Linked DNA regions of Homo sapiens. The protein of the gene in region 2 purifies or fractionates together with the protein of the main gene of each other region. This does not show direct contact. Each region holds a gene or a part of one and is shown on either strand. Other genes may lie near its edges.

Region 1 (3,500 bases), on a different chromosome or scaffold from region 2:
TGAACACTGCTGAACTGTACACTTAAAATTTGTTGAGATTGCATTCTATGTTATGTGCTTCCTTTAAATTACAGTTTTAAAAAATCAAACATCTTGGAGTTGTAAGGAAAAAATACAGAGATTGTAGAGTTCTAAGACCTATGGTTGGCCAGGTGTGGTGGCTTATGCCTGTAATCCCAGCACTTTGGGAGGCTGAAGTGGGCAGATCACCTGAAGTCAGGAGTTCGAGACCAGCCTGGCCAACATGGTGAAACCCTGTCTCTACAAAAATACAAAAATTAGCCTGGCATGATGGCAGGTGTCTGTAATCCCAGCTACTCGGGAGGCTGAGGCAGGAGAATTGCTTGAACCCAGGAGGAGGAGGTTGCAGTGAGCCGAGATCATACCACTGCACTCCAGCCTAGGCAACAGAGCGAGACTCTGTCTTAAAAACAAACAAACAAAAAACAAACAAAAAAACCTATGCTTGTATTTCAGCTGTATAACTTAACTAGTCTTGTGACCTGTATCAACCTGGCTGAGTACACTCACAGACTTGTGAATAAGCAACTATTAACACTGCTTGGCAGTCCTTCTGTGATAGTCTGGTCACCTCGTCCATTCACAGCAGTGACTACTTCAGACCTTTCTACACTCTTCAAATCTTTAACCTGCAACTAACTAAACCCTCAGACTTCTAGTCACAGAGAAAATAGGAGCCAACATACATGAACTCCCTTTATTCACTCTCAAACCTACAAACCTAGGTGTGTCTGCATTCTTTTGAATCACTTTTCCTCTGTCTTCCTATCTAATGTAAATCCCACCCATTGTGTTCTTCACCTGTTACCCCTTTTTTTGTCTTGTATATTCACTTCTCTCTCTTGCTCTTCCCTTTCTCTCCACTGATGATCTCATGCGTCACTCCACTTACTGTCCTCTTCCTAGTCAAGCCTTTCAAAAGATTTGTTAGTATTCATGGACTCCATCTCCTTCCTTCCTTTGTTCCTTCCTTCCTTCCCTCCTTCCTTCCTTCCTTCCTTCCCTCCCTCCCTCACTCTGCCCAGGCTGGAGTGCAGTGGTGCAGTCTCGGCTCACTGCAGTCTCCACCTCCCAAGTTTAAATGATTCTCCTGCCTCAGCCTAGTAGCTGGGATTACAGGCCTGAACTGCTATGCCCAGCCTACTGACTCCCTTTTCATACCTCCTATTCCTTCACCCATTCTGGTCTCTTCCATCCTTGTAAACAGCTCTCAATAGGGTTAACTTCTGTTTCTTGTAGTTCAGAAAGTTCCTTTTTAAAAAATTATTTTTTATTTTGAGACAGGGGCTCATTCTGTCGCCCAGACTGGAGTGCGGTGGTGTGATCTCAGCTCACTACAACCTCTGCCTCCCAGGTTCAAGAGATTCTCCTGCCTTAGCCTCCCTAAGTAGCTGGGATTACAGGCGCCCACCACCACACCTGGCTAATTTTTGTAATTTTAGTAGAGATGGGGTTTCACCACGTTGGCCAGGGGTGCCTCGAATTTCTGACCTCAAACGATTCACCTGCCTCGGCCTCCCAAAGTGCTGGGGTTATAGGCATGAGCAGAAAGTCCCCATGTTTTAAATCTTCATTTGGCTTGATCTTTTAGAGTAAAGACCAAAATCCTTTTTTTTTTTTTTTTTTTTTGAGACAGAGTCTGGCTCTGTTGCCAGGCTGGAGTGCAGTGGCGCGATCTTGGCTCACTGAAACCTCTGCCTCCCAAGTTCAAGCGATTCTCTTGCCTCAGCCTCCTGAGTAGCTGGGACTACAGGCGTGCGCCACCACACCCAGCTAATTTTTGTATTTTTAGTAGAGCAGGGTTTCACCGTGTTGGCCAGGATGGTCTTGATCTCCTGACCTCGTATCTGCCCGCCTCGGTATCCCAAAGTGCTGGGATTACAGGCCTGAGCCACCACACTCGGTCATCAAAATTCTTTAACGTGGGCAAGTGAGCCCTGTGTGATGATCTTGCCAAACCCGTTTTCTGTACTGCAGCTCTCTTGGCCTTTTGAGTTCTTTGACATGCCGCATTCCCTCTTGCCATGGAAACCCACAGGTTGTCCTCTCCCTGGAATGCATGTCTTCACCTCCCACCTGTCAGTTAACTATCACTTTTGTTCTTCAGATTTCAGCCTAGTTATCACTTCCTCATGGATAATTCTTTCCTCTGGCTAGGTCAGAGTCCCCTATTATGTGATCTCTTGCCCTGGCTACCTCTCCTTCATATCCTTCATATCCTGACCACAGTTGGATTTTATTTTATTTTTATTTATTTTTTTATTTTTTGAGATGGAGTCTTACTCTGTAGCCCAGGCTGGAGTGCAGTGGCGTGATCTCGGCTCACTGCAGCCTCCGCCTCCTGGGTTCAAGCGATTCTCCTGCCTCAGCCTCCCTAGCAGCTGGGACTACAGGCGCATGCCATCACGCCTGGCTAATTTTTTGTATTTTTGGTAGAGACGGGGTTTCGCTGTGTTGGCCAGGACGGTCTTGATCTCCTGACCTCGTGATGTGGCCCGCCTTGGCCTCTCAAAGTGGTGGGATTACAGGCGTGAGCCACTGTGCCCGGCCAGATTTTACATTTATGTATGATTATGATTAATGTTTTTCCTCACTGCAGTATAATCTTACCAATACCTCACACATGGTGAATGAGTGAGTAAATGTGATTTGCTGGAGGTATCCCTAAACATTAAGGAAAATAAATGTATTTCTCAACTGACTAAACTACATGGTAAAAATACATATTTAGTAATTTTGAAAAATTTATAGTGTCCCTTCATTTGTAATCAGTAAAAAAGATATTTACTGTAATCCTAGCACTTTAGGAGGCTGAGGAGGGAGGATCACTTGAGGCCAGGAGTTCAAGGCAAGCCTGGGCAACATAGCAACATCCCAGTTCTACAAAAAATACAAAAATTAGCCAGGTCTGGTGGTGCGCGTGCGCCTGTAATCCTAGCTACTAGAGAAGCTGAGGCAGGAGGTTGCTTGAGCCCAGGAGTTTGAGGCTGTAATGAGCTGTGATTGCCTCACTGCACTCCAGCCTGGGTGACAGCAAGACCCTGTCACAAAAAACAAACAAAAAAAAGGTGTTTACTGAAATTGGTCAAACTCAAGACAGATTGAAGATAACTCTTTGTTGCGGCTACCTTTGGTGTTTTTTTTTTCTTTTTCTTCTTTGAGACGAGGTTTCACTCTGTTGCCCACGCTGGAGTGCAGTGGCTCAGTCATGGCATACTACAGCCTCTACCCTCTGAGACTCAGGTGATCCTCCCACTTCAGCCTCATGAGTAGCTGAGACTATAGGCACAAGCCACCATGCCCAGCTATTTTTTTTTTTTTTTTTTTGAGACGGAGTCTTGCCCTGTCACCCAGGCTGGAGTGCAATGGCATGATCTCAGGTGACTGCAACCTCTGCCTCCTGGGTTCAAGCAATTCTCCTGCCCCGGCCTCCCAAGTAACTGGGATTACAGGTGTTAGCCACCATGCCCAGCTAATTT
Region 2 (3,500 bases):
ATGATATAATTAAAGACTTGAAATACTCTCCTGTGTAACAGTAGATCAGATAAGGTACACAGTATGTTTTATCTTTTATAATCACCGCTTTAATAGCAGATGTGCTATTAAATAGGAAAAGTGCCCTTCACGTGCCATTTTATAATTGCATATTATAAAATGATCACACCCTTAACTCATCCTCTGCAATTTCTCAGTAGTATGGCACTTGACAAAGCACTTGCTCTCATTCTTCATAATAACCCCATGAAGGCTGCGGGGCATTTTTGTGTTGTTGCTGCTGTAAGAAAACAGGTTTGATTATCTAACTGATGGAATTTATATTTATTTAACCTATTTTTAGGAATGACCCCAAGTTGCATATATTCGGAAGCCTGCATTTAATGTTTTAACTGTTTTTCTATTAAGTTTACTGATTTGTTATAGGTTTGCAACTCTCAGAATATTTTGTTTATATTAGCAGGGCATTGAGATTGTTTATTCTAAATGCATTTTTTTGTTTTGCAATCTTATAGGCCCTGGCCTATTTTGAGCAGTTAAAAATTTCCCCAGATGCCTGGCAGGTGTGTGCAGAAGCTCTAGCCCAGAGGACATACAGGTAATTAAAAACAAAATTTGCATGACAATTTAAATTTCTGTGGACATGACAGGACTGTGAAATTTACCTGTATTTGGAAAGTGTTTTCATAAAAACATTTTATGACTTTTTTTTTTTTTTGCAAAGCCATTAACATATAGTCATTCCATGTAGAAATGAGAAAAGTAGTAAACCCAGTTTGGCCATTTCAGAATTAACTTTTCAGTAAAACCATCCTTTGGTATATATTGTGTACCTGTCACCAGATCCCAGCTGGAATAAAGTGCAGTAAAAACTTCCTTATCTTATGATTGAGGGTGATAACTGCTTTCCTAAAACTTTGGTAAAGACGGTGATTGTAAATGATATATATCTTAATTTTAAAATTATTTATTTATTTTATTATTATTATTATTATTTTCTTGAGATGGAGTCTCGCTTTGTCGCCCAGGCTGAAGTGCAGTGGCGCAATCTAGGCTCACTGCAAGCTTCGCCTCCTGGGTTCTTGCCATTCTCCTGCCTCAGCCTCCTGAGTAGCTGGGACTACAGGTGCCCATCACCATGCCCGGCTAATTTTTTTGTATTTCTTTTTGGTGGAGACAGGGTTTCACTGTGTTGGCCAGGATGGTCTCGATCTCCTGACCTTGTGATCCGCCCGTCTCGGCCTTCCAAAGTGCTGGGATTACAGGCGTGAGCCACCGTACCCGGCCTATATCTTAATTTTTAATTTTAACTTAAGGTATATAATCATTCGGTGACCAATCTTTTAATATTGGACCACAGTCTTTATCTTTGTATACTAACTAGCATTCACTTTATTCGTAGGTTGGTCACACCTGTAACCCATCCTCTACAATTTCTAGCATGGGTCTCTGTACAATGAGTGACGATCCATAGATTTTTAAGATATTTGTCCCCGCCTCTCAAGTCTTCTGGTTATATAGGCCATGTCAAATATGTACAAGATTTTTTCCTTCTGCAGTGTGGCTTTCTATGAAATCTTTCTAAAGCATTCAACTAACTTTTTACGGAAATAGGAACTCTCTTATACTCACTTCATTGGCAGATTGTTGGTCTCTAGAAGATCTTTGTCAGTGTTTATAGCTGGCTAACTGCAACTCTGCCACTCCCCTAGAAAGACAGTTGGAAGTGGGTAATTGGTGTGTTGACTTTTGCCCCCATCTTGTATAAGCAAGGGTACCATATTTGTAATTTAGTGTCCTGTACGAAACTTTGAAGTTGGACTGACAGTCCATGTGGCCCTGCTTGTTTTGGATTTGGCTACAATAGAACTACTGGGGTTGAATTTTAAGCAGGACTTGGACGACCATCTTTACTTTCACTCAGACTCTGTCTGTTCTGCCATTTGTAATTTTACACCTAACCTGTTATTGTAAAATGAAGGGACTGTTCCAGGAATCTTAATATCTGGAATTTAGAGGGATGGTTTGCTGCTTACAAAGCATTGTATTCAAGGTGCATCTTAATATCTTGGTTAGTTTGCTTGTCAGATTTAATGGAAATTTTAAATATTGTGTAATATTTAGAGTTCTCATAGCTTTTTAAGTAAATGGATTTTAATGTCATAAAATGAGACCAGTAAGTATGAAACAAGCCAAAGGTCTAGTTTGAGAAACTTTTCTGCTGTATTACTCATTACTATTTTGCCTTTGATTTGTTTTCCTCAGTTCATATTCTGCTTATCTCATTTTCTTTTTTTCTTTTTCAGTGATGATCATGTGAAGTTTTTCTGCTTTCAAGTACTGGAACATCAAGTTAAATACAAGTAAGGCTTTTCTTACTGTTTTGACTCAGATTTGCGGGGAGAGGTCATTTTTTTAATTTAATGTTTTTCTTCCATAAGGAAACCATAATACAGGTTGTAAATTCACAGTGTATATGTTATATCCAGGTTATAGATACGTTTTGATGTACCCCAAAGTGTTTTAAAAGTGCTGAGTTGGCCAGGTGAGGTGGCTCTCGCCTGTAATCCGAGCACTTTGGGAGGCTGAGGCCGGTAGATCACTTGAAGTCAGGAGTTTGAGACTAACCAGCCTGGCCAACATGGTGAAACCCCGTCTCTACAAAAAATACAGAAACTAGTCAGATGTGGTGGCATGCACCTGTAATCCCAGCTACTCAGGAGACTGAGGCACGAGAATTGCTTGAACCTGGGAGGCGGAGGTTGCAGTGAGCCGGGATCACACCACTGCACTCCAGACTGGGTGACAGCGAGACTCCGTCTCAAAAATAAAAAAAGTGCTGAGTTTGTTGGTTACACATAAAAATCCAAGGCTGGGCGCAGTGGCTCATGCCTATGATCTCAGCACTTTGGGAGTCCAAGGCAAGAGGATCGTTTGAGCTCAGGAGTTTGAGACCAGCCTAGGCAACATAGTGAGACCTCATCTCTACAAAAATTTTTTTAAAAAATTAGCCAGGCATGATTGCGCGCTTCTGTATTCCCAGCTACTGGGGAAGCTGAGGCCAGGAGGTTGAGGCTCCAGTGAGCCATGATGGTGCCACTGCACTTCAGCCTGGGCAATACAGCAAGACCTTGTCTCAAAAAAAAAAAAAAAAATGAAAATCCAGATATTTCACAGAAAAATCTAGATTTCCAGCTTTTCTGGAAAAGTCAGAATATCTGGTAACACCAGGCCTGTTTTTCTACATGACAATTCTCTCTTAGAGTTAAGTAGCTGCATGGGCACTTGTGTTCAGAATCTCTGACTTACTAATTAAGCAAAATAACAAATCACTACTGAGAGGATTCCTAGTTCACCTATTGGTTTATTCTGTAGATCACAGACCACAAAACATTTTCATTCGAAAAATTGTGTAGCCATCATTTGTTTCAACATGAACAGAATCACAAATTAAAGATTGATATTGATGCCCTACCTGCCACTCTTGTCCTTATCTTTAA
Region 3 (3,500 bases), on a different chromosome or scaffold from region 2:
CTCCTAAAACGTTGGTATTACATGCGTGAGCCACCGTGCCCAGCCTTGTACAGTGATTCTTAATAGTTAGGTATATATTCTTTCATATCAGAAATTTATTTATTTATTTTTTTTTTTTGAGATGGAGTTTTGCTCTTATTACCCAGGCTGGAGTGCAGTGGCACGATCTCGGCCCACTGTATCCTCTGATGTGAATTGTTCAAGCAATTCTCCTGCCTCAGCCTCCTGAGTAGCTGGGATTACAGGCATGCACCTCCACGCCCAGCTAATTTTTTTTGTATTTTTAGTAGAAACAGGGTTTCGCCATGTTGGTCAAGCTGGTCTTGAACTCCTGACCTCAAGCGATCCACCCGCCTCGGCCTCACAAAGTGCTGGGATTACAAGCGTTATCCACCACACCCAGCCGAAATTTCTTTCTTTATAAATATATTTTATTATATAAAGATTATGCACGAATGATATATTCTGTAACCTGCTTATTTCCATTTATTTTATTAGAAATGCCTTTCCATTATCTGTATGAATATATTTGTCTTTTCTTTTTTAATGATTGCATAAGTCATTATTGTGAATGTAAGATAACTTGACCAGTTCCTTGTTAGTGGACATTTAGATTATCCGGTATTCCTGTACTCAAAACAGTGCTTCAGTAAAAATCCTTATATACTGGCACAAGTTCTCAGGGCCTCCTGAGGGCTGTATCACGAAAAAGAAAAAAAAAAAAAGAAACCCTTTGTATAGACACCTTTGTACTCCTGTTTTTTTTTTCTTTTGGATAAAATTCTAGTGTTTTTTATTATTATTATTATTTATAAAGCATTTTTTAACATTTTGTTGATTGTAATCTTAAAAATCTAACATTTTTTTCAGTTTTTAATCTTAAAATTAACCAATTATTTGATTCCATATAGGAGAGTATACAATAGAGATAGTAATTATCTGTTTCACAGTACTGCTGTAGTAAGTATTAAGTGAATTTTTAATACATGGAACTATCCAGAACAGTGCCAGGCACTTAGTAAAGGCTCGGTATTAGTTAGCTATTATCATTGTTATTACTACTACAAGAGGCTAAGGTATTATTTCTTTTCCTTTGCAGATTTAGTTTCCTAAGCAAACCTGTTGATGAGAATCACCAGCAGGATGGAGATGAAGATTCCCTTGTTTCACATTTTTATACTAACCCTATTGCCAAACCTATTCCTCAAACCCCAGAAAGTGCTGGAAATAAACACAGCAACAGCAACAGTGTGGATGATACCATTGTTGCATTAAACATGCGTGCTGCTTTGCGAAATGGGCTGGAAGGAAGCAGTGAAGAAACGTCTTTTCATGATGAGTCACTTCAGGATGACCGAGAAGAAATAGAAAATAATTCTTACCATATGCACCCAGCAGGTCAGGTTCAGATTGGTGCATGTTTAATCTCTTACCAGTCATTCGAGATGACTTGCTTGTTGCAGATATTCAACATATGGAAGTCAGCTGTTTGGCATTTTAAGTATTATTTTATGTGATCCCACATAGGAGAGCTTAATATTTAAACAGTTTTATGCTTTAGTTGATTCAGAGTTCACATACTCTTTGGACCTTAGAGTATGAAAATTGATACATCTTTAATTATCCTGGTGTAGTCTAAAGAACCCAAATTTTATAGCCAAAGAGACTATCCTGATATTTTCCCTGGCTTTGTAAACTCGGATAGATTGCTTATTGTTTTTTGTTTGTTTGTTTGTTTTTTCTTGAGACAGTGTCGCTCTGTCGCCCAGGCTGGAGTGCAGTGTCGCAGTCTTGGCTCACTGCAACCTCAACCTCCAGGGATCAGGACCTCTCATCTCAGCCACCCGAGTAGCTGGCACTACAGGCACATGATACCACACCCCGTTAAGTTTTGCATCTTTTGTTTTGCCATGTTTCCTGGGCTGGTCTCAAAATCCTGGGCTCAAGTGATCCTCCTATCTTGGCCTCCCAAAGTGCTAGGATTACAGGCATGAGCCACCATGCCCAGCCCATTTTGGGTGTTTTGTGGTATTCTTGAAGTGTCTCCAAAATTTATATTTAGTTTTCTTATTGCCATTATATATATATATATATTTGGTTACTTAGTATCATAAGGAAAGAAGTTTATACTTTGACAGTAAGAATCCCAGGTAGCCTGGGTGTGGTGGCTCAGCACTTTGGCAGGCTTAGGTGGGAGGATCGTTTGAACCCAGAAGTTTGAAATCAGTCTGGGCAACATAGCAAGACCTGATATCTACAATAAACTTAAAAGTAATTAGCCAGGTGTGGTGGCATGTACCTGTAGTTGCAGCTACTACGGAAGCTGAGGTGGGAGGATCACTTGAACCCAGGATTCAAGGTTGCAGTGAGCTATGATTATGCCACTGAACTCCAGCCTGGGTTGACAGACCAAGATCCTGTCTCCTAAAAAAAAAAAAAAAAAAAAAAAGAATTCCAGGTGCTTAATCTGTATTTGTGTATGTATCTCTACATGAATTTATTATGCTACTATATATCTTTTTAATAGGAAGTTTTATATTCTAGTTTTTTCATTTACCTTGTTTGCTGCCACCCAATTTAGAGTTCCCTTCCCAAGAAGCAAGTATACAAGTGGGTGTTGCTGGAGGCTGGAGTTTGGTCTGATGTTGGCCTGAAATACTTTTCTCTCAGAGAGCAAGTTAGCCTTATATCTGACTACAAGTAGGACAAGGAGTGAATAGAGCAAGCAAGCACACCAGCGTTCCACTACTTTCCTTGAGTTTTTCAGCGCTCTGCTTTTTTTATTTTGGTATTTTTTTTTCTATTTTAATTTATTCTTTCTTTCTTCTTTTCTTCCTTCCTCCCTCCCTCCCTTCCTTCCGAGTTTCACTCTTGGTTGCCCAGGCTGGAGTGCAGTGGTGTGATCTCAGCTCACTGCATCCTCTGCCTCCCAGGTTCAAGCGATTCTCCTTCCTCAACCTCCCGAGTAGCTGGGATTACAAGCACCCGCCACCATGCCCAGCTAATTTTTGTATTTTTGGTAGATAATGGATTTTTGCCATGTTAGCCAGGCTTGTCTTGGACTCCTGGCCTCAAGTGATTTACTCACCCCGGCCTCCCAAAGTCCTTGGATTACAGGCATGAGCCACCTTGCCTGGCTGGATTTTTCATCTTTCTTTTAGCTCTTTATTTGGGAGTGTAAATTTGAAAAATAAAAGAGGTTTATGCAAAACAGGCAATGAAACAAGAAGAATTGGGTTTGGAGTTTTATATCTACTTCTATTGTTAAATTACAGTATAAGCCAACACAAGTTATTTCCACTGTAGGTTTTGGTATCCTTGTGTGTAAAATAAAATAAAAAGCTGATTAAGCTTTTCTCAGAGTATTTTATGAGATACCTTTTATAGTCCGGGATGTTAATGGGTGTCCTTTGAAAATAATGTTCTGTGGTTAAATCTGGAAAAACACGAGGTTAAGCAGAGTTTAATAGGCTATTTACTGTAAGTTTTAGACTCTTTGA
Region 4 (3,500 bases), on a different chromosome or scaffold from region 2:
AAGCGGCAGGTGGCACACCATTTCATGCGCACCTGGATGCCCTTTATCTCCACTGTTTTGTAAAGGGGAGCTCGGAAATCATCTTCCTTGTCCTCATCCTCCTCAGCTGTAGAGAGGAAAAGTCAATTAAAAACAACTATGCCAGAACTGTAGTAAGTGCTAGGGATTCAATGATGTTTAAAATATAGCTTCTGCCTTTGAGGAATTCACAGTCTAATGAGTGAGACTAGGAACTAGGAACTATAAGACTGTGAGGTCAGGTCTTTATACAACACTATGGGAACATGGATGAGGGAGCAATTTATTCTGCATTGGGAAGTGAGGTTCGAGATAAAATGACTCAAGAGGTAGCTCTTGTATGCATCTGCTGGTGTTATTTGGTTTAAGTATATGAATATATTTTAAAGAAATAGTTTACATATCAAAGCACATACATAATGAGTTTGCATAAGAGTTCAGTATCTACATTTATATGAGTGAACTATAGCAATCCAAGAGAGGAACTAACATCAACCTTTTTTTCCAGGCACGAATCCTTTGCCCAGCCAACCATGGTGGCTCACGCCTGTAATCCCAACACTTTGGGAGGCCGAGAAGGGCGGATTGCCTGAGCTCAGGAGTTCAAAACCAGCACGGCCAACATGGTGAAACCTCGTCTCTACTAAAAACACAAAAATTAGCCTGGTGTGGTGGCATGCACCTGTAGTCCCAGCTACTCAGGAGGCTAAGGCAAGAGAATCGCTTGAACCCGGGAAGTGGAGGTTGCAGTGAGCTGAGATCACGCCACTGCACTCAAGCCTGGGCAACACAGCAAGACTTCATCTTCATCTTAAAAAAAAAAAAAAAAAAAAAAAAAACTTTCCCAAAATGTCTTCCCCTACTCTATGAATTTTCTCTACATATACGTATTTCAGTATTATTTGTTGCACAAGCATAAATGCCCTTTCTCTCAATTTTCAGCTATCAGAAACCCACCATCCCATTTCAAAACTTAAAAGACATTATTTGCCTTCTCATATACAGTTAGCAATTTTTTTTTTCTTGAGACGGAGTCTTGCTCTGTTACCCAAGCTGGAGTGCAAGGGCGTGATCTTGGCTCACTGCAACCTCCACCTGCCGGGTTCAAGTGATACTTCTGTCTCAGCCTCCCAAACAGCTGGGATTACAGGCGCACGCCACTTCGGCAGCTAATTTTTTGTATTTTTAATAGAGACGGGGTTTTACCGTGTTCCCCAGGCTGGTCTCAAACTCCTGAGCTCAGGCAATCCACCTGCCTCAGCTTCCCAAAGTATTAAGATTACAAGCATGGGCCACCGCACCCAGAGCAATTTTTATTATTAACCTAGAAAAAAAAAATGTGGGAAGGAAAAATTAAATAGATGATAGTGTGGAATTAAAAATTAAGTTTTCAAATTTTACTGATTTCTTTACATAGCATTTTTTCATATTTACATCACAAGAAATGCTAGGTAAAGAACTGTACAGCTGGGTACGGTGGCTCATGCCTGTAATCCCAGCACTTTGGGAGGCCAAGGAGGGCAGATGACTTGAGGCCAGGAGTTCAAGACCAGCCTGGCCAAAATGGCGAAACCCCATCTCTACAAAAAATATAAAAATTAACCAGGGGTGGTGGCACACGCCTGTAATCCCAGCTACTTGGGAGGCTGAGGCAGGAGAATGGCTTGAATCTGGGAGGCAGAGGTTGCAGTAAGCCAAGATCATGCCACTGCACTCCAGCCTTGGTGACAGAGTAAGACACTGTCTGGAAAAAAAAAAAAAACACACACACACACAAATATATACTGCAGATACATGGTATACATAAATATACACATATATTTTTTAAGTCTTCAAAATATTGCAAGGATATATACCACAATATAACAGTAGTTAGCTCTGGTCTGTGAAATTATAGGTAATGTTTTGCCTTTTTTGTACTTCGTACATAATGAATGTGCACTACTTATTGAAATCTTTAAATAAAAGATTTTTTCTTTTGGTCAGGCACAGTGGCTCATGCCTGTAATCCCAGCACTCTGGGAGGGTGAGGCAGGTGGATCATTTGAGGTCAGGAGTTCCAGAGTAGCTTGGCCAACATGGTGAGACCCCATCTCTACTAAAAATACAAAAATTAGCCAGGCACGGTGGCACGCTCCTGTAATTCCAGCGACTCGGGAGGCTGAGGTAGAATAATTGCTTGAACCCGAAAGGCAGAGTTTGCAGTGAGCCGAGATGGAGCCACTGCACTCCAGCCTGGGCAACAGAGAGTGAGACTCTGTCTCAAAAAAAAAAAGATTTTTTTCTTTTAAAGGGAAAAAATTCAAATGCTATTTTTCTTTTAAGAGAGTTTTGCTCTATCACCCAGGCTGGAGTGCTGTGCTGCGACCACAGCTCACTGCAGCCCTGAACTCCTGGGCTCAACTGATCCTCCAACCTCAGCCTCCCAAGTAGCTGGAACCGCAGGTGGGCACCAGCATGCCCAGTTGCAATGCTCCTTATTTTGAAATGTCTGATCCTTCTACATCATCATCTACCAGAAGTGATCTCTTTGATTACTCTTACACAATGTATTTGTTTTTTGTTTGTTTGTTTTGAGATGTAGTCTCACACTGTCGCTGGAGTGCAGTGGCGCAATCTCAGCTCACAGTAACCTCCACCTCCCGGGTTCAAGCGATTCTCCTGCCTCAGCCTCCCGAGTAGCTGGGATTACAGGCATGCGCCACCACGCCCGGCTAATTTTGTATTTTTAGTAGAGACAGGGTTTCTCCATGTTGGTCAGGCTTGTCTCGAACTCCCAACCTCAGGTGATCCACTCACCTGGGCCACCCAAAGAGTTGGGATTACAGGCGTGAGTCACGGCACCCGGCCCACGGTGTATTTGTTTATAGAGGTGTCTTCCTATCTTCCTTTCTAGTCTGAGCTATTTGAAAGGAATGACCTTTTTATTTTTTATTTACTTTTCTTCAGATGGAGTTTTGCTCTTATCGCCCAGGCTAGAGTGCAATGGGGCAATCTCGGCTCATCACAACCTCCACCTCCCAGGTTCAAGCAATTCTCCTGTCTCAGCCTTCCAAGGAGCTGGGGTTACAGGCACGTGCACTACCATGCCTGGCTAATTTTTATATTTTTAGTAGAGACGGGGTTTCGCCATGTTGGCCAGGCTGGTCTCGAACTCCTGACCTCAAGTGATCCGCCCTGGCCTCCCAAAGTGCTGGGATTACAGGCGTAAGCCACCACGCCCGGCCAGCAATGACCTTCTTAAAAACCCCAAATGACCATCATAGTGCCTTCCATAATACATCAATAAATATTTGATGAATGAACATTAAAGGCTCATTAAAATAGCCTTTCTTGGCTTTAGGGACACAAAGTTCTTTTCCCTCACCCAATCTTTGAAGGGAAGTCACAAACAAAGCACAATGATGTAGGCTTTGGGAGCACAATGAAGTTCTTTTTTTCTTTCTTTTTGAGACGGAGTCTTGCTGTTGCCCAGGCTGGAG
Region 5 (3,500 bases), on a different chromosome or scaffold from region 2:
AATTGCTTTCTTAATTTCCTTTTCTGATTGTTCGTTGCTGGTACAGTAGTCCCTTCTTATCCACAGTATTGCCTTACGTGGTTTTACTTAGCTGTGTCACCCGTGGTCCAAAAATATTGAATGGAAGATTATATAAATAAACATTTCATGAGTTTTAAATTGCAAACGGTTCTGAATAACATGGTAAAAATCTCACGGCCTCCTGCTCCGTCCTACCTAGGACACAAGTCATCCCTTTGTCCGACATATTCATGCTGTATGTGCTCGCCACCCGCTAGTTACATACTAGTCATCTCAGTTATCAGATCAGTTGTTGGAGTATTGCAGTGCTTGTGTTCAAGTAACCTTTATTTTATTTAAAATGGCACCAAAGAGCAAGAGTAGCGATGCTGGCAGTTCACATATGCAGAGAGAAGCCATATAGTGCTTCCTTTAAGTGAAGAGGTGAGTTTTTTTGTTTTTTTTTTTTTTTGGCTTAAACAACAGAAATTTATTTTCTCATGGTTCTGGAGGCTAGAAGCGGCAGATCAGGGTGCTGCTGCTTTGGTTCCTGATGAGGGCTTTCTTCCTGGCTTATAGGTTGGCTGGCATCTTGTCCTCACATGGCAGAGGGAGAGTACTGTAGTCTCACCTTGCTTTTTATTATTATTATTTTTTTAATTTATTTTTTTATTGATAATTCTTGGGTGTTTCTCACAGAGGGGGATTTGGCAGGGTCATGGGACAATAGTGGAGGGAAGGTCAGCAGATAAACAAGTGAACAAAGGTCTCTGGTTTTCCTAGGCAGAGGACCCTGCAGCCTTCCGCAGTGTTTGTGTCCCTGATTACTTGAGATTAGGGAGTGGTGATGACTCTTAACGAGCATGCTGCCTTCAAGCATCTGTTTAACAAAGCACATCTTGCACCGCCCTTAATCCATTTAACCCTGGGTGGACACAGCACATGTTTCAGAGAGCACAGGGTTGGGGGTAAGGTCACAGATCAACAAGATCCCAAGGCAGAAGAATTTTTCTTAGTGCAGAACAAAATGAAAAGTCTCCCATGTCTACTTCTTTCTACACAGACACGGCAACCATCCGATTTCTCAATCTTTTCCCCACCTTTCCCGCCTTTCTATTCCACAAAACCGCCATTGTCATCATGGCCCGTTCTCAATGAGCTGTTGAGTACACCTCCCAGACGGGGTGGTGGCCGGGCAGAGGGGCTCCTCACTTCCCAGTAGGGGCGGCCGGGCAGAGGCGCCCCTCAGAAGAGGTGAGTTTTTGACTTAGGAAAGAAAAAAGATCATATACTGGAGTTGCTAAGATCTATGGTAAGAACAAATCTTTTGTCCATGAAATTGTGAAGAAGGAAAAAGAAATTTGTGCTAGTTTTGTTGTGACACCCCAAACTGCAAAAGTTACAGCCATAGTGTGTGATAAGTGCTTAGTTGAGATGGACAAGACATTAAATTTGTGGGTGGAGGACACAAACAGGAAACATGTTTCGATTGACGGCAACCTGGTTTGATACTATTCATCGTTTTGGACATTCACTGGGGTCTTGGAATTTCAAAAATAAGATGTTTGAGTAGCTGTATACTCTTTATCACATGGATGGAACATACTCTGGTTGTATCAGCATTTTTTTTTTTTTTTTTTTTGAGATGGAATCATTCTGTTGCCCACGCTGGAGTGCAGTGGTGCGATCTTGGCCCACTGCAGCCTCTGCCTCCCGGATTCAAGCGATTCTTTGCCTCAGCCTCCCAAGCAGTGGGGATTACAGGGGTGTGCCACCATGCCCAGCTAATTTTTGTATTTTTAGTAGAAAGGAGGTTTCTGCATGTTGGCCAGGCTGGTCTCGAACTCTTGGCTTCAGGTGATCCGCCCGCCTCGGTCTCCGAAAGTGCTGGGATTACAGGTGTGAGCCACCGCACCCAGCCTGGTGTGCATCAGCATTTTGGACTTTGGAGTTTATGTAACCAAGGAGCCAGGCTGTGGACCTCGTTTATTACTTGAAGAATTCAATATTTATTTCTGCCTTTTTGACTCCTTGACTGTAAAATACTGATCTGATCTGTAGAGAGAACAGTACATGGACCAGGGAATCCTCAGTGCCTTAATAGATCCTAAGTACTTACTTATTCTTTCCCATAGAGGCTTACACATGGTAGGAAAAGAGATTTCTGGAATACCTTTCCTCCCCAAAGAAAGCTGGTTTCTTTTGTTTGTTAAGTGAGAGAGTGGTACCACAGGGTTTCCAAGATTTCCAAGGCTGATGAAAATTCTTCTGTTGTCTGCTTGTCTTACTTTCTTGAATTTATTTTTTGTATGTTATGTATTTATTATTTAGAGAGAGGATCTCCCTGTGTCACCCACGCTGGAGTGCAGTGTCACAGTCATAACTCACGGCAGTGTCAACCTCCTGGGCTCAAGTGATTCTCCTTCCTTGGCCTCCTGAGTAGCTAGGAACACAGGCATGCTCCACTATGCCTGGCTATTTTTTTCTCCCTGGAGACAGGATCTTGTTGTGTTGCACAGGCTGGTTTCAAACTCTTGGCCTCAAAGCTAGCCTCCCACCTTGGTCTCTGAAAGTGCTAGAATTAAAGGTGTGACCAACTGCACCCAGCTTATTTATGATGATGATGATGATGATGATGATGATGATGATGATGATGATGTTTGGGAGATGGAGTCTCGCTCTGTCGCCCAGGCTGGAGTGCAATGGCACGATCTCAGCTCACTGCAACCTCTGGCTCACTGCAACCTCCACCTCCTGGGTTCAACTGATTCTCGTGCCTTAGCCTCCCGAGTAGCTGGGGTTACAGGCACCCACCATCATGCCTGGCTAATTTTTGTATTTTTGTCAAGACGGGGTTTCACCATGTTAGCCAGGCTGGTCTCAAACTCCTGACCTCAGGTGATCCGCCCACTTCGGCCTCCCAAAGTGCTGGGATTACAGGCATGAGCCGCTGCACCCAGCTCTATTTTTTGTTTTGTGATAGGAAATTATAAAACATGGAATTATGCATTTGTCAGCCTTTAAAAAAACTTTTAAGTGAATGAAAGTGGCGTATTTGAACATCAACTTAGGACAGATTTTTACTACTTTTGAAAAAATGTTGGAAAATATTTCTGTATGAAAAGTAAAACAACTTTTAATTTTTTTTAGAAGTCAATGAAAGGATTCTATTTTGCAAAGCTGTATTATGAAGCTAAAGAATATGATCTTGCTAAAAAGTAAGTACAAACTGTAACATGTATTTTTTTTTTAAAATCAATGCCTTTTCTCATTTTCTTCTTTGAAATAGGTAAAAATATGTTCTTAGTAGTTCTTCCTAAGTGTATTCTGGAATAAGGGATTTATCACTCAGACTGATGCTAAGGACCAGCCTAGATTCCATTGAGATTGAAACCGTAATTAGTGTTTTCTGCATGCTGCTGCTTTATACCAAGGGCAAGAAATTGTTTGGCTTCAAATACTTTTTCTAAAAATTGTCTTCTGTTGGAGTAAAAGAGGAC
Region 6 (2,695 bases), on a different chromosome or scaffold from region 2:
ATAAAACCTGCACATTCGGAGGGCTGGCTTTTGGTATACTCAGGTTCTGCAGGGTCCACTGCTGAAATTTGTGGATTGTGGTTTGGGGGCGGGAGAACTGGGGGGGGGGGGGAGTGCAGTTCTGGGAACAATCTCCTGCACACACCAAGAGACAACTGTAGTTTTTGTGTATGTATTTCCAAGAACTTTAATAAACACTATCCAGTAACTTACCAAGGAAGATAGAAGCACAAAGAGAAATGAATGTGTGTATTTTCAACTTTTAAAAAAGGTACCTAAGTCGATATGCAAATTAGGCATGATTCCTAGCACCAGGCAAGAAGTAGGGTACCTTCTATATGTTGTGCATTCAGATACTTTCAGATACTTTCCCTTTCTCTTAGGAGTTGTCTAAATCATGTCAATGTATTCTTCTAATGAGACACTGTTAATCTTTATTTTACAAAGTCCCCCCAATAATACTGTGTGCCTTCATTATGAGGTAAAACTAGAACAAAAAGTATGTCATAATTTTTTATTGATGGCATTTATCCCATGGTTTAACATGTTAATTATACTGTAATAAACATGGCTTTAATATTAAACTTTTCCTTATTATCCAAAGTCACCACAGTCCATTTTAGTAAATATAAAAATATATGCTTAATACTTTGTACAATACTGGTTTTTGGTCCAAACAAAACTGGATCAGAAAAGCCAATAAATTCAACTTTAAGAATCCCCAATTTTTTTTTTAAAGATTTCCAAATGGATTTAGGCAACTTTGAATAATGGGATTTACATAATAAAATCTGAGACAAGACTAAACAAACAACAAAAAAATCTCTAACACAAAATTCAAATTTCAAGTTCACAGATTTATGTTATGCCAAAAAGTACAGAAACAAAATTGTATTTACACAAGTTTCATAATAAAATAATGAAAAAGGCAAGACAGGTGATAGGAGAATGAAAATATAGAAATAGCATATAATTATTAAATGGAGAGTGAACTAGATCTAACAAGTCCTTAGCACGGACCATTCTTTAATCAGGCTTCCTCTATCAGAAAAGTTTAGCGCACAATACACCCAACTCACTCACTTCACACATACACCAGCACAAACTCAGCATAGAAATCATCCGTTTCAACACTCTCTAATCTATACAGAATTCTAATCTATACAGAATTCCTCAGATATAATTACAATTTCAACGCGTTCCATGAACGCTTATCAGCGCACATAATGGTGTAGACAAAGAGGTTCTATACAAAGCCATTCACCGTGCAGGCTCCATTCCTGGGTACAGCCAGACTATGTCAAATCAGTGAATAATCTGCTGGATCATAAAATATTTTTGCTGAAGAATCAGTCACCAGTCTAGCTATTTATTTATTTAAAAAAGGGTGGGTGAGGCAGGGTGGGGCTTCTGTAACGAAAGAGAAAGGAGGAAAATTCCAAAATTAAAGAAGTCCTTAGGCAGATCTGACTTCAGATAACCCCAGCACAAAGTACAATCCAGTATCTGAAAGCAGGGCACCAGCTGTTGTTAAAATTGAGTACAACACCAATGTGACCTTTATTTCCTGCGTCTAACAGCAGTCTTTATCTTGCGACCAGAGAATGAAGTTCCAGAAGAAGAGAACACATTTTTCCCATTTGACCTGTGAAAAATAAAAACTTCATAATGTGACATGATGCTCTGAGCAAAATTTCCAAATGCTAACATTTACCATGAGCAGCACAAGGGTAAGGGGGGTCGGGTGGGGGGGGAGTAGACTCACATTGGTATATACATTTTCTGCTACACCTAACACACACGCTACTGTTATTTTTTTCTCAAACTGTAATATAATCCTCCAGAATTATAGTATGGTAAATTTATGTTGGAGAACATATTTAATTTTACCCAAACCATACGGAATCTTGATGACTTTTAAAAACAAAACATATACATGCACATACCCTTACCAATGTAACTTCTCCATTTCAATAAAAAATTCTCTTACCCCACTGTAAATGCTGCTGGAGACTGGTTAAATGGAAAGCCCCCCGAGCCTGAAGGCTGGGCTGAGGCTGCAGGTGTGCTAGAATTTGCACCAAATGTGAACACTCCTGATGGACTGTTGTTTGTGAAGTTGAAATTTGTAGTGCTGCTGCCAAACTGGAAAGCCGAACCTGCAATAGTTAAAGCAGAAATACTTCATTAGGGCAAAATGATAGGTTTTTTTGTTTGTTTGTTTGTTTTTTGAGACGGAGTCTCGCTCTCTTGCCCAGGCTGGAGTACAGTGGCACAATCTTGGCTCACTGCAACCCTTGCCTCCTGGGTTCAAGTGATTCCCCTGCCTCAGCCTCCCCAGTAGCTGGGACTATATAGGTGCGTGCCACCATGCCTGGCTAATTTTTTGTATTTTAGTAGAGACGTGGTTTCACCATGTTGGCCAGGATGGTCTCGATCTCCTGACCTTGTGATCTGTCCACCTCGGCCTCCCAAAGTGCTGGATTACAGGCGTAAGCCACTGCACCCGGCCGCAACATGATAGGTTTTTAAATTAAAGACTCTGACCTTTACATATAAAAACATGCAAAGAATTAAAATATTCTGGTCTTTTAATCTAAAGAAAACTATTTTCTCCACTGACACATAGTACATACTTGACACCTCCAACAAATCACACAACTTACCTATGACCAAGGGGAAAAGGGCACCCTGG
Region 7 (3,500 bases), on a different chromosome or scaffold from region 2:
TAATTTAAAAAATTAGCCTGGTGTGGTTGTGCATGCCTGTACTCCCAGCTACTTGGGTGGCTGAAAAAGGAGAATTGCTTGAACCTAGGAGGCGGAGGTTGCAGTGAGCCAATGTCGCACCATCGCATTCCAGCCTGGGCAACAGAGCAAGACTCCGTCTCAAAAAAATAAGAAGAAAAAAAAAAGAACAGTTTAAAAAAGGCTGAAAAGTTAACAGTCTTAGGGACCCTATAGGACAATATCAAGTGATATGACGAACATGTCTCAAATCAGAGAAGGAAAAAGGAATGAAGTGGGAAGAGAAAGAAATCATGACTAAAATAAGAAGTCTCCAAATTTAATCGAAAAAAAATTCAATCTACAGATTCAAGAAGCTTGGTAAATCCCAAAAGCAGCCAAACGTAACACACACTGTGTGATTCCTTTCATATAAAGAATAGGCAAAATAAACCTATGGTGTAGAAACGAGAGAAGAGGTCATCTATTTGACTAGGAAGGTTTATTTAAGTGTATACATTTGTTAAAACTCACTGAATTGTACACTTCTGGTCCATGCATTTCACTGTATGTAGATTTTACATCAAGTTAAAAAACTACCTTTAGCAGAATGTCTTAAAAGGGTATTCATTAGTTTAAGGATATTATCTAACATATCGATATTAATAGACTTTTTTTCTCTCTTTTTTTTAAAACGGAGTCTTGCTCTGTTGCCCAGGCTGGAGTACAGTGATGGGATCTCGGCTCACTGCAACCTCCGCCTCCCAAGTTCCAGCAATTCTCCTGTCTCAGCCTCTGAGTAGCAATTACTTTTACACCAACCTAATACTTGGGTCAAAAGCACTCTAATTGGCTGGGCACGGTGGCTCACACTTGTAATCTCAGCATTTTGGGAGGCCAAGGCGGGCGGATCACTCGAGGTCAGGAGTTCGAGACCAGCCTTGCCAACATGGGGAAACTCTGTCTCTACAATACAAAAATTAGCTGGGCGTGGTGGCACGTGCCTGAGACACAAGAATCGCTTTAACCCAGGAGGCAGAGGTTACAGTGGGCCGAGATGGTGCCACTGCACTCCAGCCTGGGTGACAAAGCAAGACTGTCTCCAAAAAAAAAAAAGCACTCTAATTAATCCAGGGTACAAACAAATTACTATTCAATGTAAACAAAATTCATGGCATGGATCATTCTAAGATCCTAAGAACACTCACCTTGTTTGTTCAATTTTGTCCCAACTTCAGGGAGACTACAATAAACAACATCTCCCAACGCTTCCTAAATAAAACAAGACAAAACCAAAAATCTCTAAGAAGTTATAACTAAACCCTCCAGTAAACAGAATAAGCCAAACACTGAATCCCCTATAATGAAGATTTAGTATATATTTTATACTGGAGGGGCTACATTCTTGAGTTTTCCTTAAAATCCTTTAAACATGTAAAAACTACTCTCAGTCAGGTGTGGTAGTTCACGCCTGTAATCCCAGCACTTTGAAAGGCCCAAAGTGGGTGTTATCACATGAGGTCAGAAGTTCGAGACCAGCCTGGTTGACATGGTGAAACCCAGTCTCTAATAAAAATACAAAAATTAGCTGGGTGTGGTGGCAGGCACTTGCAATCCCAGCTACTCAGGAGGCTGAGGCAGGAGAATCACTTAAATCTGGGAGGCAGAGGTTGCAGTGAGTTGAGATTGCACCTGTATACTCCAGCCTTGGCGACAGAGCAAGACTCCATGTCAAGAATAAAAATAAATGGCTGGGTGCGGTGGCTCATGCCTGTAATCCCAGCTCTTAGGGAGGCAGAGGTGGGAGGATAGCTTGAGCCCAGGAGTTTGAGACCTGCCTTGGCAATATAGCAAGACCCTGTTCTCCAAAACTAAGTAAAATAAAATGATTTTAAAAAACTATTCTCAACTCAGGAGCTGCAAGAGACCAGCCGCCAGCCAGATCTGGCTCACAGGCTTTAGCAACCTAACACAAGCCTCCTGCCCCACACAAGACTGCTAGCTCTTTGTTTTATTTGGTTTTGAGACAGAGTTTCTCTCTTGTTGCCCAGGCTGGAGTGCAGTGGCCTGATCTCAGCTCACTGCAACCTCTGCCTCCCAGGTTCAAGCGATTCTCCTGCCTCAGCCTCCCAAGTAGCTGGGATTACAGGTGCCCACCACCATGCCTGGTTAATTTTTTAAAATTTTTTGCTAGAGATGCAGTTTCACCATGTTGGCCAGCTGGTCTTGAACTTTTGACCTCAGATAATCAACTTGCCTCGGCCTTCCAAAGTGCTAGGATTACAGGTGTGAGCCACTGCGCCCGGCAAACACTGCTAGCTCTTCTGGGCATGAACATATTTGGTGTTCTTCCACCTCTGTAGTTTTATGTACACCATTGCCCCCAAAGCATTTGCTGAAATCCTGCTCACTGATTCTACAAATCATAGTCCTCACACCTTGTACTCCCTGAAGTCCCTGACTCCAGAAAGAAGTGGTCTCTCCATCAGGTAAGTGAATTACAACCCCACCGTTCCGATGCCATCATGTAATGTTTGCAAGTCATTCTCATGTAGGTAATTCCCCTCACAAATAAACTCTAGGAGGTAAGGACGACATCTTACACAACATCTCAAAAACTATCCAACACTGGGCCTCATAGTAGGTATACAGAGATGCCAAGGAAGATATAATTGTGATTATCAACACACAAGCATCTTACATGTCTGAGGAATTTTGTACAGTCACGTGCCGCCTAATGGCATTTTGGTCAACAACAGACCACATATATGACAGTGGTCCCATGAAATTATAATATAGTTAGTATCACTTGTCCAAAATGCTTGGGAGCAGAAGTGTTTTGGATTTCAGATTTTGGAATACTCGCATTATACTTAATACATGAGCACTCCTCATCCAAGATTCTGGAATCCAAAACGCTCCAATGAGCATTTTCTTTAAGAGTCACGTTGGTGCTCAAAAAGTTTCAGATTTTTGGAGTATTTCAGGGATTAGAGATGCTCAACCTATGCCATATTTTTACTGTACCTTTTCTGTGTTTTGATAGGCCAAGTGTGTTACGATTGCCTACAGTATTCAGTACAGTAACATGCTGTACAGGTTTGTAGCCCAGGAGCAAAGGCTGTACCATACAGCCAAGGTGTGTAATAGGCTGTACCATCTAGGTGTGTGTAAGGGCACCCTAGGAGGCTCACAGAAGGACGCAATCCCCGAGGAGGCAGTTATCAGAACATAGCTCCATCATTAAGTGACACGAGTGCATTCCCATCAGTTAACATCCCCCCTTCCCCGCCTCACCCAATACATACATCCAGTTGAAAATCACTGAACACGCTAGGATTTGGCTTCTCATTTTCTCTTAAACAGTATCGCCATATGGAATTGAGGGGAATTTACAGAGAAAAGATGGGCTGAATAAAAGCCTTCCCTTTGTGTCATCTGTGCCTATTGAGGTTTTCTTTCTTCCCGTCCTCCTGGTCACGTGTGTATCACTGGACCCACAA

Evidence for each region.
Region 1: the proteins of XPOT (region 2) and NUP205 fractionate together in Homo sapiens (co-fractionation; one large-scale study listed by BioGRID). This does not show direct contact.
Region 3: the proteins of XPOT (region 2) and NUP98 fractionate together in Homo sapiens (co-fractionation; one large-scale study listed by BioGRID). This does not show direct contact.
Region 4: the proteins of XPOT (region 2) and ZDHHC5 purify together in Homo sapiens (co-immunoprecipitation; one large-scale study listed by IntAct). This does not show direct contact.
Region 5: the proteins of XPOT (region 2) and RANBP2 fractionate together in Homo sapiens (co-fractionation; one large-scale study listed by BioGRID). This does not show direct contact.
Region 6: the proteins of XPOT (region 2) and NUP153 fractionate together in Homo sapiens (co-fractionation; one large-scale study listed by BioGRID). This does not show direct contact.
Region 7: the proteins of XPOT (region 2) and GCSH fractionate together in Homo sapiens (co-fractionation; one large-scale study listed by BioGRID). This does not show direct contact.

What each region holds. Positions count from the first base shown.
Region 1 is NC_000007.14:135,560,917-135,564,416, forward strand, and holds part of NUP205 (nuclear pore complex protein Nup205), read left to right. Parts: intron 1-3,500. UniProt on the Homo sapiens protein: Plays a role in the nuclear pore complex (NPC) assembly and/or maintenance. May anchor NUP62 and other nucleoporins, but not NUP153 and TPR, to the NPC.
Region 2 is NC_000012.12:64,414,392-64,417,891, forward strand, and holds part of XPOT (exportin-T), read left to right. Parts: intron 1-515; coding exon 516-598; intron 599-2,306; coding exon 2,307-2,363; intron 2,364-3,500. UniProt on the Homo sapiens protein: Mediates the nuclear export of aminoacylated tRNAs. In the nucleus binds to tRNA and to the GTPase Ran in its active GTP-bound form. Docking of this trimeric complex to the nuclear pore complex (NPC) is mediated through binding to nucleoporins.
Region 3 is NC_000011.10:3,721,055-3,724,554, reverse strand, and holds part of NUP98 (nuclear pore complex protein Nup98-Nup96 isoform 1 precursor), read left to right. Parts: intron 1-1,099; coding exon 1,100-1,398; intron 1,399-3,500. UniProt on the Homo sapiens protein: Plays a role in the nuclear pore complex (NPC) assembly and/or maintenance. NUP98 and NUP96 are involved in the bidirectional transport across the NPC. May anchor NUP153 and TPR to the NPC.
Region 4 is NC_000011.10:57,685,114-57,688,613, reverse strand, and holds part of ZDHHC5 (palmitoyltransferase ZDHHC5), read right to left. Parts: intron 107-3,500; coding exon 1-106. UniProt on the Homo sapiens protein: Palmitoyltransferase that catalyzes the addition of palmitate onto various protein substrates such as CTNND2, CD36, GSDMD, NLRP3, NOD1, NOD2, STAT3 and S1PR1 thus plays a role in various biological processes including cell adhesion, inflammation, fatty acid uptake, bacterial sensing or cardiac functions.
Region 5 is NC_000002.12:108,725,982-108,729,481, forward strand, and holds part of RANBP2 (E3 SUMO-protein ligase RanBP2), read left to right. Parts: intron 1-3,150; coding exon 3,151-3,218; intron 3,219-3,500. UniProt on the Homo sapiens protein: E3 SUMO-protein ligase which facilitates SUMO1 and SUMO2 conjugation by UBE2I. Involved in transport factor (Ran-GTP, karyopherin)-mediated protein import via the F-G repeat-containing domain which acts as a docking site for substrates.
Region 6 is NC_000006.12:17,614,537-17,617,231, forward strand, and holds the end of NUP153 (nuclear pore complex protein Nup153), read right to left. Parts: intron 2,160-2,695; coding exon 1,991-2,159; intron 1,646-1,990; coding exon 1,561-1,645; 3' UTR 501-1,560; downstream 1-500. UniProt on the Homo sapiens protein: Component of the nuclear pore complex (NPC), a complex required for the trafficking across the nuclear envelope. Functions as a scaffolding element in the nuclear phase of the NPC essential for normal nucleocytoplasmic transport of proteins and mRNAs.
Region 7 is NC_000016.10:81,086,396-81,089,895, forward strand, and holds part of GCSH (glycine cleavage system H protein, mitochondrial precursor), read right to left. Parts: intron 1,270-3,500; coding exon 1,206-1,269; intron 1-1,205. UniProt on the Homo sapiens protein: The glycine cleavage system catalyzes the degradation of glycine. The H protein (GCSH) shuttles the methylamine group of glycine from the P protein (GLDC) to the T protein (GCST).